2 separate regions of the Homo sapiens genome follow, and region 1 is linked to region 2. Evidence: fine-mapped expression QTL. Tissue or cell type: sun-exposed skin. Region 2 holds a variant in brackets; the other region holds the start of a gene. All regions are shown on one strand. Distances are between the middles of the regions.

What was found. PIP is the estimated chance that this variant, and not a neighbour inherited with it, causes the effect.
Region 1: it holds the start of MPST, and the variant in region 2 is fine-mapped to the expression of MPST in sun-exposed skin (GTEx, PIP above 0.99).

The regions. Positions count from the first base shown.
Region 1 is chr22:37,016,363-37,024,444 of GRCh38, forward strand. It overlaps MPST (mercaptopyruvate sulfurtransferase), which reads left to right and starts at 3,380. Exons shown (of 3, transcript NM_021126.8): 1 at 3,380-3,510; 2 at 7,830-8,082. The coding sequence starts at 3,475. TST (thiosulfate sulfurtransferase) reads right to left here and starts at 3,085. Exons shown (of 3, transcript NM_003312.6): 1 at 3,038-3,085; 2 at 1,776-2,391. The coding sequence starts at 2,370. RefSeq lists enhancers at 1,628-2,603, 2,632-3,133 and silencers at 2,607-2,666, 2,827-3,216, 3,247-3,366, 3,377-3,696.
Region 2 is chr22:37,329,566-37,337,663 of GRCh38, forward strand. It overlaps LOC105373024 (a long non-coding RNA gene), which reads right to left and starts at 2,571. Exons shown (of 4, transcript XR_938232.3): 1 at 2,328-2,571. RefSeq lists an enhancer at 1-44 and a silencer at 943-1,237. The variant A/C (reference allele first, on the strand shown) is at 3,617.

The DNA.
Region 1 (8,082 bases), 310 kb before region 2:
GGAGTGGCTGAGCTGAAATGAGAATCCATGTTCCCTGATGCTCCTGAGGGAAACTGAAGGAGGTGTGAACACAATTACAGAGGAGGAACTTCAGCATCCCGGGCCTTCAGGAGGCATTACCCACTGCAGGCCATTCTCCTCCTCTGAGCCTCAGTTTCCTCATCTGTAAAATGGGTGAGGACATTGGGCCTGGCACCTCCAAGCTGTCCCTTCCACTTATTTCTTAGGTTGCTTCAGGGCAGGCTGGGAAGCAGCAAGAGAACCAATTCCACTGATCCTCCCCCATGACAGCTTAAATCCCAAGGAGAAGAGGCGTCTTGAACCAAGGCCAGGAGAGGGCTGCAGGCGTTCCCAGCCAGGATTCTCTGGGAGGTGCCAAATGAACTTGAATCTTCAACTCCAGACCTTCAGAGAGCAAGCAGGCAAGAAAAATATGGGGCCTGGAAAAAGCTGCGCTGGAAAGGGCAGAGACCCTGCTGTCCTGGCTCTGTCACTAACTAGCTATGCGGCCTTGGCCCCTGCCTCTGTGCACCTCAGTCTCCCCTCTGTCAGGTGAGGTCACCGTTCAGGCCCTCCAGCTCTAAGAGTGTGCAGAACAGTTTTCCCAGCATTCTCTCTGTAGGAGGTACAGACAGGAAGAGATGTTTTTCAACAAGTCAGGCAAAATGTTGCACACGAGTTAGATTCTGTAGAGAAGGAGCTCTGACTGAGGAAAGAGCCACCAAGGAGGTGCCCAGAGACAAGAGAGGGCCCTGCTCCTGGAAATGGCCAGGCAGGGACTGGAGGGCACTCAGCAGGAGTGATGGCAGCGAGACGGCAGTCCTGCCTCTAGAAAAGGGAAGACCTCCGAGGTTCTGTCTGGCTAGGAGGTTCTAGAACTCAGCATTTCCTCTCCTGAGGCTCTCCCCAACCCTCAAGCAGTATCCAATCCACCTGGCCTTCCCTTCCACAGGAGGGGAACTTCTGAGTCGCCTTCCTGGGGCAACTAGCAGAGGGGACTCCCTCCTGGCCCTGGGAAGTAGGGGTAGGGCAGCATTGGGTGCGTCCTGGTTTATAGCCCTGGTTTGAAACAAGGCAGCATTGGATTCGAATCCTGCCTTCCACCACTTTATGTCCTGGCATCTCAGTCCCCCCACCCCCCGCTGCCAAAACAGGGGCATTGAGCTTTGTTCGCTGAGATAATGCGGTGCCAAGTGTCTGGCATGAAATGGCAGCTGCTGTTACAACTCTGCCGACGGGCTGCAGCTGCCTGGAAAGGTTATGGAACCTTTGCAAACAGCAGGCAGGGGCCCCAGGAGAGCTAGATTTGGGGAGAGGGGGATCCTGCGGGGAGGGACACTGTTGATGTCTATAAGGGTTTCTGCGGGACGAGAGAGGCCTGGAGAAGCTGGATGTGTCCGTGGGAGGTTTCTGTACAGCAATGCAAACGCTGGCTCAGGGGCATGACACCCTTAGGTATATCCTAGTACATGTGGGGCAGCTGGTGCCTGGGAGTGGAGGTGGTGGACATGTCACCAGTGACTTCTGCTCACACAGATGCTAGGTGGCTTCTTAGCACATGGCTATGAGGACACATTCTTGGGTCCTTGTGCATCCAAGCTGAAAAAGCCTTTAGGTTTGTCTCCACTTTCTGGTTTTATCGATGGAAAGACTGAGGCCTACATGGGAGGATTGAAGGCATGGGACGGACCCTGGAGAGGGTCCCAGTCATCCTTACTCCCTATCCTTCCATGGGGCAATACTCCCCAGGGACCACCCAGCACTGGGACACCTACCTACTGCATCCGGCTCCGGCTCGGTGCCCAGGAACCGCCCTTGAGACCTTGAATCCACCAGCTGGAACCTCTTAGATTCAAGGTTCTCCAGCACCTGCTCGTAGGTCTTGAGCAGGGAGCGGTCCAGTGTGGCTTTGAAGACGGCCGGTTCTGGGCGTGAGGGCTCGGATGTCACCGGGTGGCCCTCCTTCAGCCAGTTCCGGAAGCCACCATTGAGCACTGATACGGTGCGGTGGCCAAACACACGGAACATCCACCAGACCCGGGGAGCATAGAAGCTGCCCAGGTGTTCACCATCATACACCACCACGTGCGTGTGGTTGCTGATGCCCAGGCGGCCCACATACTCGGCGAAGCCAGCCTCGCTGGGCAGCATCATCTCGTAGGGCGACGCCGTGTCCCGGCACTCTTCTATGTCAAAGAAAGAGGCGCCGGGTACGTGGCGCTCGAGGTACTCCTTGCGGGCCTCTCGGGTGCCTGGTGAGTACCAGGACGCGTCCAGCACCCGCAGGCCGGGCCCCAGCTTGCCAGTCCTGATGGACTCCGCCAGCCACTTGGTGGAGACCAGCGCCCGGTAGAGCACCTGATGAACCATGGCTTCAGCTCTGCGTGTCACCTGGCACGGGTGGGAACCAGGAAAGAGAGACAGGCGTGAGGAAGGAAGTCGGTGTGTGCAGTAGGGTGAGGCCTGGGAGAAGCTCTTTCTCCCTCCGCACTCCCCCGGGTTCCTTGTTTACAGCAAGCCAGCGAGGCTGGGGCGTGCAGCGGGATAAGTTTGCAGATTCCCTCTGGAAAGCCGGCCCCGCCCCTCCCAGCCGGCCCGGGGGCCCAGCGCAGAAGCGGGTGGGGCAAGAGTTTCCGAGGACTCCAAGTAGGGGCGCTTCCTGGGGCGGGGATCTGGCTCCTAGAAGTTACAGTACTCGATCCCGCCAGGAAAGAGCAATGAAAGCATGCCCGGGATGGGGGGCGATGGCATCTTGGGCTTAGAATCCCCTTTCCTTCCAAGGCAGAGGGGGTGGGCGCACGGCTAGGAAGCTCCGCGAGCCGCGCACACGCCATCGCCTGCGGCCTCCCCAGGCAGCCCGAGCTCGCCCGCCTCCAGAGTGCCCGAGTCCGGCCCGTAGCTCGCTGCCCTCTGCCCTAGGTGGATCAGGGGTTCCCGGGGCACCCCGTCCCACTCTCGCAACGCTATCCTTCCCCGGGCAGCAGGTGGCCCGACCGGCGGCCCAGGCGCCCGGCCGCTGCCCCCGCCCCGCACTCACTCGCCCCGGACGCCGCGCTGGCGCTCGCCCCGGCCGGCTGGAGAAGTTGGCCGGTTCAAACCCCCGGCCGCAGCTCCCCAGGCGGCGCGCACCATCGCGCCACCGCCAGAGGGGGACCCTGCGCCGCCCGCCGCCATCCCGCGCCTCCCCCGCGCGGCCGCTTCGCGCCCGGCACCTGCCAACCTCGCGCGCGGGGCCTCCGGGACCCGCGGGGGTCTGAGGGGGACGCCGGGTGGCGCGGGGGCCGCGCGGGCCTGGGCTGGGCGGAGCGGGCGTACCCCCACGGCCCGGCCAGTGGAAGGCGCGGGCAGCAGCGGCTCCGAGTGGCCGCGGCGGTGGGCTGTGCCGGAGTCTCCTCCCTTTGGTCCGCTGCAGGTTGGTGGCGGGAGGAGGGGACAGCTGCGGGCGCGGGGAGGGGGCGCCGCGCCGCGGGGGCCATGGCGGAGCCAGGAAGCCGGGAGTCCGAGACCCGGGTAACTGCCGCGGCGTGGCGGCTTGCCTTTCTGGAGGGGGAGGGAGTGGCTCTTTGGGGGTGCTCGGCGCGGGGCTCCCGCGCGGGACCTGGGCGGAAGAGGGGGCTTAGTCTAGGAGAGAAGGCGCGCCGCTACGTTGGCACTAAGGGTGACTGTCCGCTTGGGGCGGCCTGCCGGGTGGGGTCGTGGCGAGTGGCGGGTGGGGAGCCTTGGGTGGAAGTGGGTGACCTGGTGGCACCAGAGAGGGCGGGGGAGAGAGAGGAGGACAGGGAGACGAGACCCCGCTGACCCAGAGGCCCCAGGAAGAGACACTAGCCAATAACTTGTTAGTGAGTGAAAGGAACTAACATTGTCCAGCCCTGCTTGGTGTGGCACTTTGCTGGGTACTCCCGTGGTGTGACTTAATTCCCACAATAACCCTGAGGAGTAGGCCAGAAACTTACTAAGACAGGAGAGAGCGGCAGAGCGAGTTGCTGGAGGACACACCCAGAGTTGAGGCCGGGCCTGATCCCTGGTCTGAAGCCCACGTGGTACCAGCTGCCTTTGTTTACCTGGCTCTTCCCTGAAGGTTCATGCTTTTTAAAAAATTGCCTGTTTTGAACTTAGCCCGTTTAATCATAAGTTGATGTAATTCAATTTTTAATAATAGCTGTATTTAACAACCAGTTGGCAAAATTCCTGAAAAGCTCGCCATGGGCTCTTGCAAACTGGGGGACACCATTGCCCCTCCCTAGCTTTTGCAGAGGCCAGCCTGGAAGCTTTCCCTGTTTCCCAACCCTGACCTTTTGTTTTGTTTTGTTTTTTGAGACAGGCTGTGGTTCTGTGGCCCAGACTGGAGTGCAGTGGCGCCATCTCAGCTCACTGCAACCTCCGCCTCCCAGGCTCAAGCGATCCTCCCACCTTAGCCTCCCAAGTAGGTGGGACCACAGGCATGTGCCACCATTCCCGGCTAATTTTTAAATTTTTGGTAGAGATGGGGTTTCACCATGTTGTCCAGGCTGGTCTTGAACTCCTGGGCTCAAGTGATCTGCCCATCTCAGCCTCCCAAAGTGCTGAGATTACAGGCATGAGCCACCATCCCTGGCCTCATCCCTCTTTTTAAAAAAAGGTTTTGTTCTAAAATGCTCACAGCAATCCTCAAAGCCTAGTGTCTGGTGGTTGGGGGAGGGGGTGGGCAGGAGGGACCAGGCTGGGGAGGTCCAAGAGGAGCTCCCAAGCTCTGCTCCTCAAGGGGTACCCTGGATCCAGCCTGCGGCTCACGCTTGCTTCAGTGCAGCTGTGTATCCTTCTGACATGAGCCTGGGGCGGTTACGTCCTGGGGTCCTCCACTCCCAGGGCACCCTCACCTACAGTGATCCCGGCTTCTGAATCACACAGGCACCTGGTTTCTACCCCTCCCTGACACCCACAGCCTGCCTTCACACCCTCCTTTATGGCCCACAGACCTTTGTGAGAAGTGCCAATCAAGCAGGGAGACTGGGGCAGGGTGACCTCAGATCTCTGAAGTCCCACCAAGCCCTGAAATTCTAAGATTTTAGATTTGCTGCTGGCAGTTCCAGGGCCACCAATGAGAGTAATGGAAGAAATAATGCAATATTATTATTATTATTATTATTTTGAGATGGAGTCTCACTCTGTTGCCCAGGCTGGAGTGCAGTGGCGCGATCTCGGCTCACTGTAACCTCTGCCTCCCAGGTTCAAGCGATTCTCCTGCCTCAGCCTCCCGGGTAGCTGGGACTACAGGCTCATGCCACCATGCCCAGCTAATTTTTGTATTTTTAGTAGAGATGAGGTTTCACCATGTTAGTCAGGCTGGTCTTGAACTCTTGACCTCGTTATCCGCCCGCCTTGGCCTCCCGAAGTGCTGGGATTGCAGGTGTGAGCCACCACGCCCGACCTAAACCGTTTTTAATGATTATTAAAACCAGCCAGATGTAATGCATGGTGGTTGCCCCTCTACATTTATTGTTTAATCTTGGCTCTAAGAGGTGGAGGTGAGAAGCTCCATTATAAGGAACAGAAACCACCCAGAGACCCTACACACCCACATCACACAACCAGTTAAGCAGTGGAGTGGGGTTTACATTGATTTGGGGGGCTCTCTGGCTCCTAAACCAGGGCTCTTTCTACTGTAAATGGATGATTGGGTGAGGGAAACAAGGATCCTCAAGAATAGGGGACAGTGTTTGGGGGTGCACAGGGGCTGCTGTGGTTCCCACAATAGGGTTCCTCAGGAAGGAACCTGCAGCATCTGCCAGCACAGCGCCCCCTAGCTGTGCTGTAACGCAGATAATGGGGATCACCCCTTAGCCAAACACCCCTTGGCAGCCTCCCTACCCTAAAGACCGTGCTGAGGCTTCCTGGGCCCCTGGAAAAGTCAGATTAGTCTGGACTTCCTCCTACTCCAGGAAGCCTTCCCACCTCTTCTGCTGCCACCCCAGGCAAACATAGGGGCCCTCTGTGCTCAACACTGAATTCTAAACTATCCTCAATTTCACTCTCTCTTGCCTGCAGCCTGACGTTTCCCCCCAGGGCTTGGCAAAGGCAAGAGTGCCTCGGTGTCCGGCACAAGGCCTGACCGCATGGGTGAAGTAGGTTCCTAAAAGCCAGCTGCGGCCAGACTGTGGGGGTGGGCACAGGGTGTCACCCTAGAACTCATTAGGCCCTGGTCATCATGGCACCTGGGGCAGGGGAAGTCCAGCCTGAGGGGTCAAATTCTGGCTGCAAATCCTGAGGCTGCCTCCTGTGACCACGGGCAAGGCACTTATTCTTCTAATTGCCAGTGGCCTCATTCATAAAGCAGGCGTCCTAATACCCGCCCAAGGCTGCGGTGCCTAGCATGTGACCTGGCCCACAGAGGCACTCGGTCCACAGATGTTGTTCTCTACCTGCCCCCTTCATTTCGCTGGCAGGACTGCATGCAGTGGGTGTCAAGGTTGGGCCTCACACAGGGGATAAGTGAGGGCTGATCTGCAGCCCATACTCCACACACCCAGCCATGTGCCCTGGTGGGGGCTCAGCCTCTGCCTGGCAGAAGGGGCCCTTTCCTCTCACCTGCACAACGGTGGCTTCCCAGCACAAAGGGCTTAAAGTGTTTGGGAAGTTTACACCCAGGAAGGCTGTGGGCTGGCCTGGCATAGTGGGCTGGCGAGCTGGTGCACTGTCTCTGGTATGCAGGAAAGATAGAGAGGAGAGGGAGGGAGGTGCGAAGTCACTGTTGCTGCTGCTAGAAGGGCCAGAGAGAGCCCAGGCTGGACAGGCAAAACCTGGCCTCGCCAGACTCCTGGAGCCTGCACAGAGTGTGTGTCTGAGAAGTCCGGATTCTGGTGCCAGACTGACTGCCTAGTGAGAAGCCTGGCACCGCCGGGTCAGGCTAGTGCACTTTTTCTTGTTTGTTTTTTGTTTTTGAGACAGAGTTTTGCTCTTGTTCCCCAGGCTGGATTGCAATGGCACGATCTCGGCTCACTGCAACCTCCGCCTCCTGGGTTCAAGCAGTTCTCCTGCCTCAGCCTCCCGAGTAGCTGGGATTACAGGTGCCCTCCACTAAGCCCGGCTAATTTTTTGTATTTTTGGTAGAGACGGGGTTTCACCATGTTGGCCAGACTGGTTTCAAACTTCTGACCTCAGGTGATCCACCTGCCTGGGCCTCCCAAAGTGCTGGGATTACAAGCGTGAGCCACCGCACCAGGCCAGGTTAGTGCACTTCTGTGAGCCTGAGTGTCCTCCTTGAAACGGTGACAATAATATACCAGGCCTCTTAAGATCACTCATTCAACACATACTGGAGAGTCTACTGTGTCAGGCATTGTTCTAGGATATTGTTAGGATTCAGTGGTACCCAGCAAGGACTCAGTAAATTCCAGCTACTGTTCCTATTAGGTCGCCAATATAAATGCTTGATGAGTGAATGAATGACTTCCGTCTGGGACTTGGTTGCAAATAAAGCCGAGCTGCATCTTAGGGAGGGGTGGAGACTTTGCCCCTGTTTGTGCCTTGAAGCCAGCAGGGCCTTGCCCTAGGATACCTCCACCCACCCTCCTGCCCAGCAAGTGGAGGTGAGGGGCGTGGCCTGGGGCTCTCCGGGAGGTCATGGTCATTGGGTCACTCGGAGCTTGTGTTTATATGAGGCCTGGCAGAGGGAGGCCCCTGGCTACCCACCTTTGTGCCCGGGTTCACCACCACTGGTTTCTGCGTTCCCTGGACTCTGCCCTGCACGGGCCGCACCTCCCCCGCCGGCCCTCGCCCATGCTCCAGCCCCAGCCCTAGCCCCAACAGCGGCCTCTCCCTGCTTCCCTTCTGACATCCTCCCTGTCGCCCAGGCCCGCAGCCCGAGTGTCGCCGCCATGGCTTCGCCGCAGCTCTGCCGCGCGCTGGTGTCGGCGCAATGGGTGGCGGAGGCGCTGCGGGCCCCGCGCGCTGGGCAGCCTCTGCAGCTGCTGGACGCCTCCTGGTACCTGCCGAAGCTGGGGCGCGACGCGCGACGCGAGTTCGAGGAGCGCCACATCCCGGGCGCCGCTTTCTTCGACATCGACCAGTGCAGCGACCGCACCTCGCCCTACGACCACATGCTGC
Region 2 (8,098 bases):
GGCTGGGGCAGGGACCAGTCAGATTTCTGATTCAGAGCAATTCAGATTGCTTGGGCAATCAATCGGACAAAATCACCCCCAGGGCAGGAAAAGAGACAGTGAGAATATTGTTGGAGGGGGTGGTGCGTGCAGGGAAGAAGGAAGAGGGAGAGAAAGAAGAAAGAAGGAATCTGAGAAGAGACCGTGGAGGGGACGGGGAGAAACCATCCCCTGCTGGAGTCCTGGAGGCAGCCCCACTGGTGCCAGCCTTCTCCTTTGGCCGGTGGGACCTCTGTGGCCAGAGGGCCAGGGACTCACCCAGGCCCCAGTGAGGGGGAGGCAGAATGGACAGAATAGGTGGGAAGACGGGCATGGGAAAGGGGTAAAAGGGGAGGTAGGGTGTGGTTGGCACAGGCCTGCATAGCTAACAATCAGAGAGACGGCCGCCCCTCCTTTTCGAGTCCACATCACAGGTGGAGGGGCCAACTCTTGCCACACGGCCAGCTCATTCCACCTCATTGCCTTTGCCCAAGCCAGTGCCCTGCCTGGGGTGCCTTTATTTCCCTACCCTCACCCCAAACATTTAATCCTCCTCCCTAATTCCTCCAACATTCACCCCAGCCCTGATCTCCCTCAGCAATGACTGTCTCACCCTCACCCTCAGAGCTTGGTGTGAGCGGGGTTACAGTCTGGTGGTCCAAGGATGCTTGCTGGTGTCCCATAAATGTGCTTAGTCCTCACAAGCAGCATGGACGAGCATCACAGCCTGGTGGTTAGGCTCACAGGCTTGGGACTCCACTGGGCCAGGTTCTAGTCCCAGCAGCTTCGTTTTCACATAGTAGTTGCTTCATAAATGCTAGGTCCCCTCCTCCTGTTCCATTGCTAGCTCAGAATGTGCACACAGCAGGTGCCCAGTGGTGGCTTCTGGGCTGAGGTGCCCTTCTGTTCCCTAGTGGGCCCCTTGTCCCTGACAGGACACAAAGATGTCACCCCTGCCTTGGCCTCCAGGCCCAAGCCTGAGCAGTGAAGCTTGGGAGAAAGGCCCCATTGCTCATTCCCCTTGAGTCTGCAGCTTGGGCAATCAATCGGTCGCCATGGAAACCAGCCTTCCAATCAGAAGCAGGCACTTCTTGGCTGCGCCAGCGCCACCTACCCACCCACTCAGGCCTGGCTGTGCGGTCCCTCACCTAGGACTGCCAGGGGTTGGGGGCGGGGAGGAGAAAAGGGAAACTGGCATAATTGGGGCACACCTGCTTCTATCCCTAAAGCCCTGAGAGTCTCCAAAGAAAGAGCATTTTCTTGGGGTGGGGGTCACTACTTCAGTGGCCCCCTGATTTTTACAGCATTCATTCCTACAGAGTATGGCCCTTGGTACTCAGAACAAAACCTGAGGGGAGGGAATGATTCACCCATTGGGCAGAAGGGAAAGCTGAGACCCAGCTGTAGGGTCAGTGGCAAAGCTAGGTGCATGCCCCCTCCCTGAGCCCCCATCTCCTTCCCCCTCCTCCCTGGCCTGAGGAATGGGACAGGGAAAGGAGGGGCAGAAGAGTTCCTGGCCCACTGCAGCCAGCACCTGCCTTCCCACTAAATCTACGCCTGGCACTTCCAGGGCCCATTAGCGCCGGGCCCACCAGGGCCCATTAGCCAGCATCTATGGGCCTCTGCACCCACCTGCCCACCCACGCCCAGCTGCAGCCTCCCGCCCAGGCCCCTCCTTCCCCCACTGCCAGCTGGGATTGGACAGAGCCCAGGCTCTGAGTCACACAACCCCACGTTCAACAACTGGCTCCTCGCTGCTGAGACTAAGCAAGCCAGGAAACCTCTCTGAGCCTCAGTTTCTCTGTTTGGAAAATGGAAAGAATTACTCCTGCCTTACAAGGGAGTGATGAGGACTCAGAGTGCATAAAGAGCTTAACACAGGGCCTGGTATGGACTCAGTAAAAGGGAGGCCACCTTCCCCATCCCTGTTCCCTCTCAGTACCCAAAACTGTCCCTTGGAGCTGAGCTAAGGCATCCACCTGCCAGGAGAAGGTAGAAGACAAATTCTACTATTCTTAATAACCAGCCCAGGAAAGCAAATTACAAATAAGATTTAGAGAAGGGCAGCAACTTGCCCCCTACCCCAACACTGGGAGGGATGGGTAGGATTTGAACCCAGGTCTGTCTGACTCAGACCTGAGCTGTCTCTGCTGCAGCCCAGCCTCTCCCGACCCTGACCCAGCCCTGCTCCAGCCAGCCAAAGCCTGTCACCCTGGGCCACTAGTGCCCAGCTCTGCACTGACAGAGCACCTGCTATGAACTTGGCATGCCAGGTGCCCACCACCACATACAGCACCCCCAGCACTTACAGGGCTGCAGAAGGGAAGTCGAAGGGATGTTGAGTCATGCTGGGGGATCTGACCTGGTTGAGGATGCTGGGGAGACTTCTGGAAGGAAGGCGGAGGCTAGACCAGCTCCCAGCCACCACACAGCTGGTGCTGCCGCCTGCTGTTTGAAGCTTTTGCCCTCTCGGCCTAGAAGTCTCCCATTATGGTGCTGTGTCTGCTGGGACCCACGGGGCGCTGCACAGGGAACCATGTGGCCGTGAACCTCAAGTCCAGCCCAGCAGGGGTCAATTGTCTCAGCCCACCCCTCCCTACCCCCAGTATCCTCTCTCCTTTATAGATCATCCATTAAGTGCCAGACACTGCAGAAGGCACATTGACTAATATTAAATATTAGCCCAGCTACCCTGCTGGGCTGTCCTTCTTAGAAATGAGGAAGTGGAGGGTTAAGTGGATTTCTCAAGGTCGTGCAGCTGGTAAATGGCAGAACCAGGATTTGAACTCAGGTGTGCATGACTTCAAAGGAAGACACCACTGAGGCCTCCTCTACTGGGTCTGCCTCCCTACCGCCCCTGGCTCCTTGATGAAGACTCCTGTAGGACAGGATGGAGCAACTTGCTTCCAGCTATTATGAGATTTCTGCTTCTCCCTTCTCTCCTCCAGAAAACAAATTGATTCATCAAATTACACCTTTAATCTGTCCTAGGGAAGGGGAGGAATGGGACTCAGCCCCCACAGCAGGAAGCAGGACGGGTAATCAGCCCACCCGTCCTCCCCAGCTCAGGCACAGCCACCCATGCTCTATCCTCCTGTGATTAAACACTAATTGCCGCTATGCTCTCAAATTGAGTATTTCAATTTCCAGAAACGCAAAGTACATTTCAATCAGTTCCTCTCCCAAACCGTTCCTTCTCAGGAGCCAGGACAAGAACATAAGCCCCCCAAGGCCATAGACAGCTAAGCCTCACTCCTGTACTCCTGCCGTCCCTCTCCCCCGCAACCACCGCTTCTCTCCTTCCCGGGTACCCCGTGGGGGAGCTGTGGGCACTCGAAGTGTGTGGGAGCATCCAAGAGACCCTACAATTGTCAGCTCAGAAAAGTGAGGCAGGCCCCCCCAACCCTGGGGTCAGACAAGGGGATGGGGACTGTCCACTAGAGGCAGGGTCCAGGCTGCCTGCTCCTCACCTGCCCCCGACCTTCTCCCTGCACACGGTCATTAGACGCTCATCCCAGCCTTCGGAGTGGACAGAGGCTGGGCAGGAATCCCAGTGGGAGCAGAGACTGGCGGGATGGACACCTGGCCCTTAGTTCCA[A/C]CTCTGCTACACATCTCCCCTCTCTGGCTCTCAGTGTCCCCATCTGTCCCAGAAAGGGGCTGGGGAGGGGCTCACAGTCGTAGCTGGAAGGTATGTGCTTCCCAGGCACAGGCCCAGGGCCAGGATCCGGCTGGCTGCAGATTCCCCTGGGGGTTCTGAGGAGGGGCCAGAAATTGACTTTTTTTTTTTTTTTTGACGGAGTCTTGCTCTGTGGCCCAGGCTGGAGTGCAGTGGCACGACCTTGGCGCACTGTAACCTCCACCTCCCGGGTTCAAGCAATTCTCCTGCCTCAGCTTCCTGAGTAGCTGAGATTACAGGCACCTGCCACCACGCCCAGCTAATTTTTGTATTTTTAGTAGAAACAGGGTTTCACCATGTTGGCCAGGCTGGTCTCAAACTCCTGACCTCAAGCAATCTGCCCTCCTCGGCCTACCAAAGTGCTGGGATTGCCGTCGTGAACTGTGCCTAGCCAAACTGGCATTTTTGAAAGGCTTTCCAAGCTGGGCATAGTGGCTCATGCCTGTAATCCCAGCTACTCAGAAGGCTAAGGGGGGATGATCCCTTGAGACCAGGAGTTGAAGACCAGCCTGAGCAGCATAGTGAGATTCTGTCTCTTAAAAAATAAAAATAAATAAGTAAATAAAAATTAAAATGATAAAAAGCCTCTCCAAATGATTCCAATATGTAGCCGGGGTTTGGGAACTGCCAGGCTAGTGCAGCCTTCTCTGTTGACAGGTGTGAATATGGGCCCAGAAAGGGTGAGCCTCTAGCCCAGAATCACACAGCAAGTGAGAGATGTTAGCCAGAAGATAGCTAACAACCCTTCCAGTTTGGACATTTCAGAAAAGCAGGTGAACAAACACACAGAGTGAAGGGGAACAGGGGTGTAGCGCCCACTGTCACGGAGAGGAAGGGTTGCTGAGAGGTCTAGTCAAGAATTCCTACTTAAAAACCGCATCCCCTCCACAATGTTAGATGTAGGTCCTGAGCAAGTTACTCCATCCTAAAAATAAAGATGGCGCTAGAGATTTAACCGAGGTCTCTCCAAGGTCCCTTCTGGCTCCAGAACCCTCCTTCCAGGCCAGCTGGAAGCATAATAAATAATAATAACAATGGCAGACATTTATTGAGCATTTACTAAGTCTAGGAACTGAGCTAAGCCTTTGGCGTGGATTGCTTCTTTCTAGCCACTCCACCATCCTAAGAAGGGCTGTCTTATTTCCCTCTAGCTCTCCTACAGGTGAGCAAAGCGCGGCTCGGGAAGGTAGCTCCTGCCGGAATGGAGCAGAAACGTCTCGGCTGGGAATCGAACCCAGGGTCAGTCAGTAGCGGCCGCGTTTTAGGACCCGGCGGTGCACCGAAGACCCGGCGGAACGGCGCGCACCCCGGGCCCAGAGCTCATTAGCCGGGCGCCGCGGGGGCCTTCATTAAAGCTCAGCGACGCGGAGGCTGCCCGCGGCGGCCCCGCCTGGGCGCTCCGGGCTGGCCCGGACCTGCGGCGTCGGCCCAGGAGCATCTGGAAAGGGGGCGCGGGCGGGGATCGGTAGGACCGCCTATGCTCAGGGACTGTCACCCACCCCCTCCCCCAAGCCAAGGAGTAGCGGGGAAGGGGGGCGAGTGCACCCAGGTATTGGGGGGAGCATCAAATCGGAGTGGAGGGGGCCGGTGTCACCGAGCTATCCCCAAACCTCGAACGGCCAAGGCCGAGTCACCCCCGCCCCACCCCCACACACTATGCACCCATTTCACAGATGGCAGGTCCTAGCTCAGAGGGTTAGGGCAGGCCCAGAACCGCATCGCCATCGCCCGTTCGCAGGCCTGATTGAGAGGCTGGAAACGAGGATGGGCAGGGAGTGAGGACCTGTAGGCTCTGCCGGAGAACTTGGGCGTGGGCGGAGCGGGGCATCCAGGAAGAAGCCCCCACCCCAGCCTTGGATAGGGTAGTATACGATAGGGGGCGTAAAGAAGGGTCATGGGCTCCGGTGGTCGCAGGTCCCACCGGCAACCGCCAGGGCGGGGGCAGCAGGAGCAGGAACCTGCTCGCCTCCGCATCTCGTCGGCTCCCCTCTCCCGCCAGACTCCTGTCTCTGCGCCAGGCTGGCCACCCATCCCCTACGCCGGCCCCGCGCCTCCGTCCTCCTCCCCGCTCCCCGCGCTCTCCTCGCCTCCTCCCGCTTCTCTTACCGGAAACCGATCCTGTCCCCTCCATCCCACTCCACCGGTTGACTGAGGTCGCCGCCCATCTTTCCACCCCCGCTGTGTGACTCTAGACGATTGTCTTAACCTCTCCGAGCCTTAGTAAGTAGGCAAGTGGAAAAAGAAGTCAGAAGACTCGGGTGATGGAATGCCAGCCTTTAATGGGTTAAAAAGTGGGAAATGTATGTGTATATATTTGCTTTTCTATGCATATGTTTGCTTGTCTGCGCAGACAGCCTGGAAGAGGAGGGAAGTCGCTGGCGAAGCTGGCTGCCTCCAGGGAGGGAGCCTGGTCCCTGGGGAATGAGCCGGGGGAGATGGAGACTCAGTATTGCACACACCTCTTAAATATTCAAATGTGTAAATGCATTAGCAATTCCAGCTAATAAACAAAATAAAATACAAACATTTACAAAACTAAAATTTAAGAATAATACTAGTGAAGATTAAGCCAGATAAAGTGTGTGAAGCCAGCAGACACACAGAAGTTTCAGTGAACCGCCCCTGTTTTGATTGTCACTGCTCACTAGGTTTGCTGTCGGCTGCTCTGGGTGCCCCTCTTCTTCCCCATCTCCCTCCGTCTTCTGGCCTCAAACCCACCTCGCCTCCTCCTCCCTGCAGCCCCTCCCTGCACTGAAGTCCCTTGCACTCCACCCCCATCTCTTCCAGGGTGGCTGGACACAGGACAGAGGAGCAGGGCTGCGGTGGAGCCCTGGGGATGATGGAGAGTGGGGGGCAGCTGAGCTGTCTGCCAGTCCCCAGGATCCCGTTTGGGAGGGGATCCCCAGTCTAGCTTCAGATATCTCCCCACCTCACAGACGCAGGGTCCCAGTGTAACCTTTGATGGATGAAAAGGTTGGAAGGGAGAACTAAGAGCGGGGGCGTGGCCGGGCGCAGTGGCTCACTCCTGTAATCCCAGCACTTTGGGAGGCCGAGGCGGGCAGATTGCCTGAGCTCAGGAGTTGGAGACCAGCCTGGACAACATGACGAAACCCCATCTCTACTAAAAATCAAAAAATTAGCCAGGTGTGGTGGCGGGCGCCCATAATCCCAGCTACTCGGGAGACTGAGGCAAGAGAATTGCTTGAACCTGAGAGGCGGAGGTTGCAGTGAGCCGATATCGCACCACTGCACTCCAGACTGGGAGACAGAGCAAGACTTAGTATCAAAAAATATATAAAAATAAAAATTAAAAAGTGGTGGGCGAAGCCCCCAGTGAACCACTGGAATCCCTTCTACATGCCCCTCCAAGACAAACGCCCCCGACATACACACACAGCCCAGCACAGCATCACCCTATACTCCATCCCACGTGCACCGGGCACAACCTCTGGCCTGCCCATCCCCCTCTTCTCAGCTCCTCCCCTCCCCACCCCCTCCACGGCACAGTCTTGGCAAGAAGGTCCCCAGAGATAGCAACAAGTAACTAGCACCTTAGGCCAGGCTGAGGGTGTGGCAGATGTGGCCTCAAGGCAGGGCAGGGTGGGGCTGGCCCAGGAACCAGAGACCTTTTCAGAATCCCGGCTCAAGGACAGGGAGAGGTGTTTCGTGACAGGAAAGAAGGAATCACTCTAGCAGTCCCAGAAAGCATGTCCAAGGGGAGTCTTGGAGCTCCTCTAGAAAGACCCTCCTCCCTAGTCTTCCTGCCTCCAGCTCGTCCCCTCCAGGCCACCATCCCCGATGCACAGTTCCAAGGCGCTTGACATGCACTGGCTCTTAACAGGGCTTTCCCAATGCACACCTGCCAGGCCTGTCCCCCACCTCCCCTTGAGGATCAAGTTCATGCAATGCAGGTTGACATTCAGAGCCCTCAAGAGGTCCTCCCTGGCCTTCCAGATGCAGCCTCCTTTCTGAAGCTCCAGCCCCCACCTCACCCTGTGCTCTCCGCTCCTTTTGGAGTGAAAGGTACCCACCCGCCTGCTTTCTGTGAGAGCACCGCACAGTCTGCAACCACAGCCTGGCCCAAGTGAGTGGAGAACCTAGAGGCCAGGGTCTGACTCATTTCTGAGTCCTCAGGGCCCCTTGGACACAGGGAGCCCAGAAGGGCAGGGGAGTAATGGCAAGTTCTGCAGATTAAGAGGGCTGAGCTGGGGCCCAGTGCCAGGCAGAGAAACAGCCCTGCCTTAACCACAGACCTGCAAGGCCGGACTGATGGGTCCCTTTAACAGGAAAGGAAACTGAGGCTCAAAGCAAGTGTCTTCTCCAAGGCCACACAGGCCTTGTTTTGGTTCCTGCATCAGTTGGCTCCCAGCTGGGAAGAGCCTGGAGGGCAGGAGGAAAGCCAAT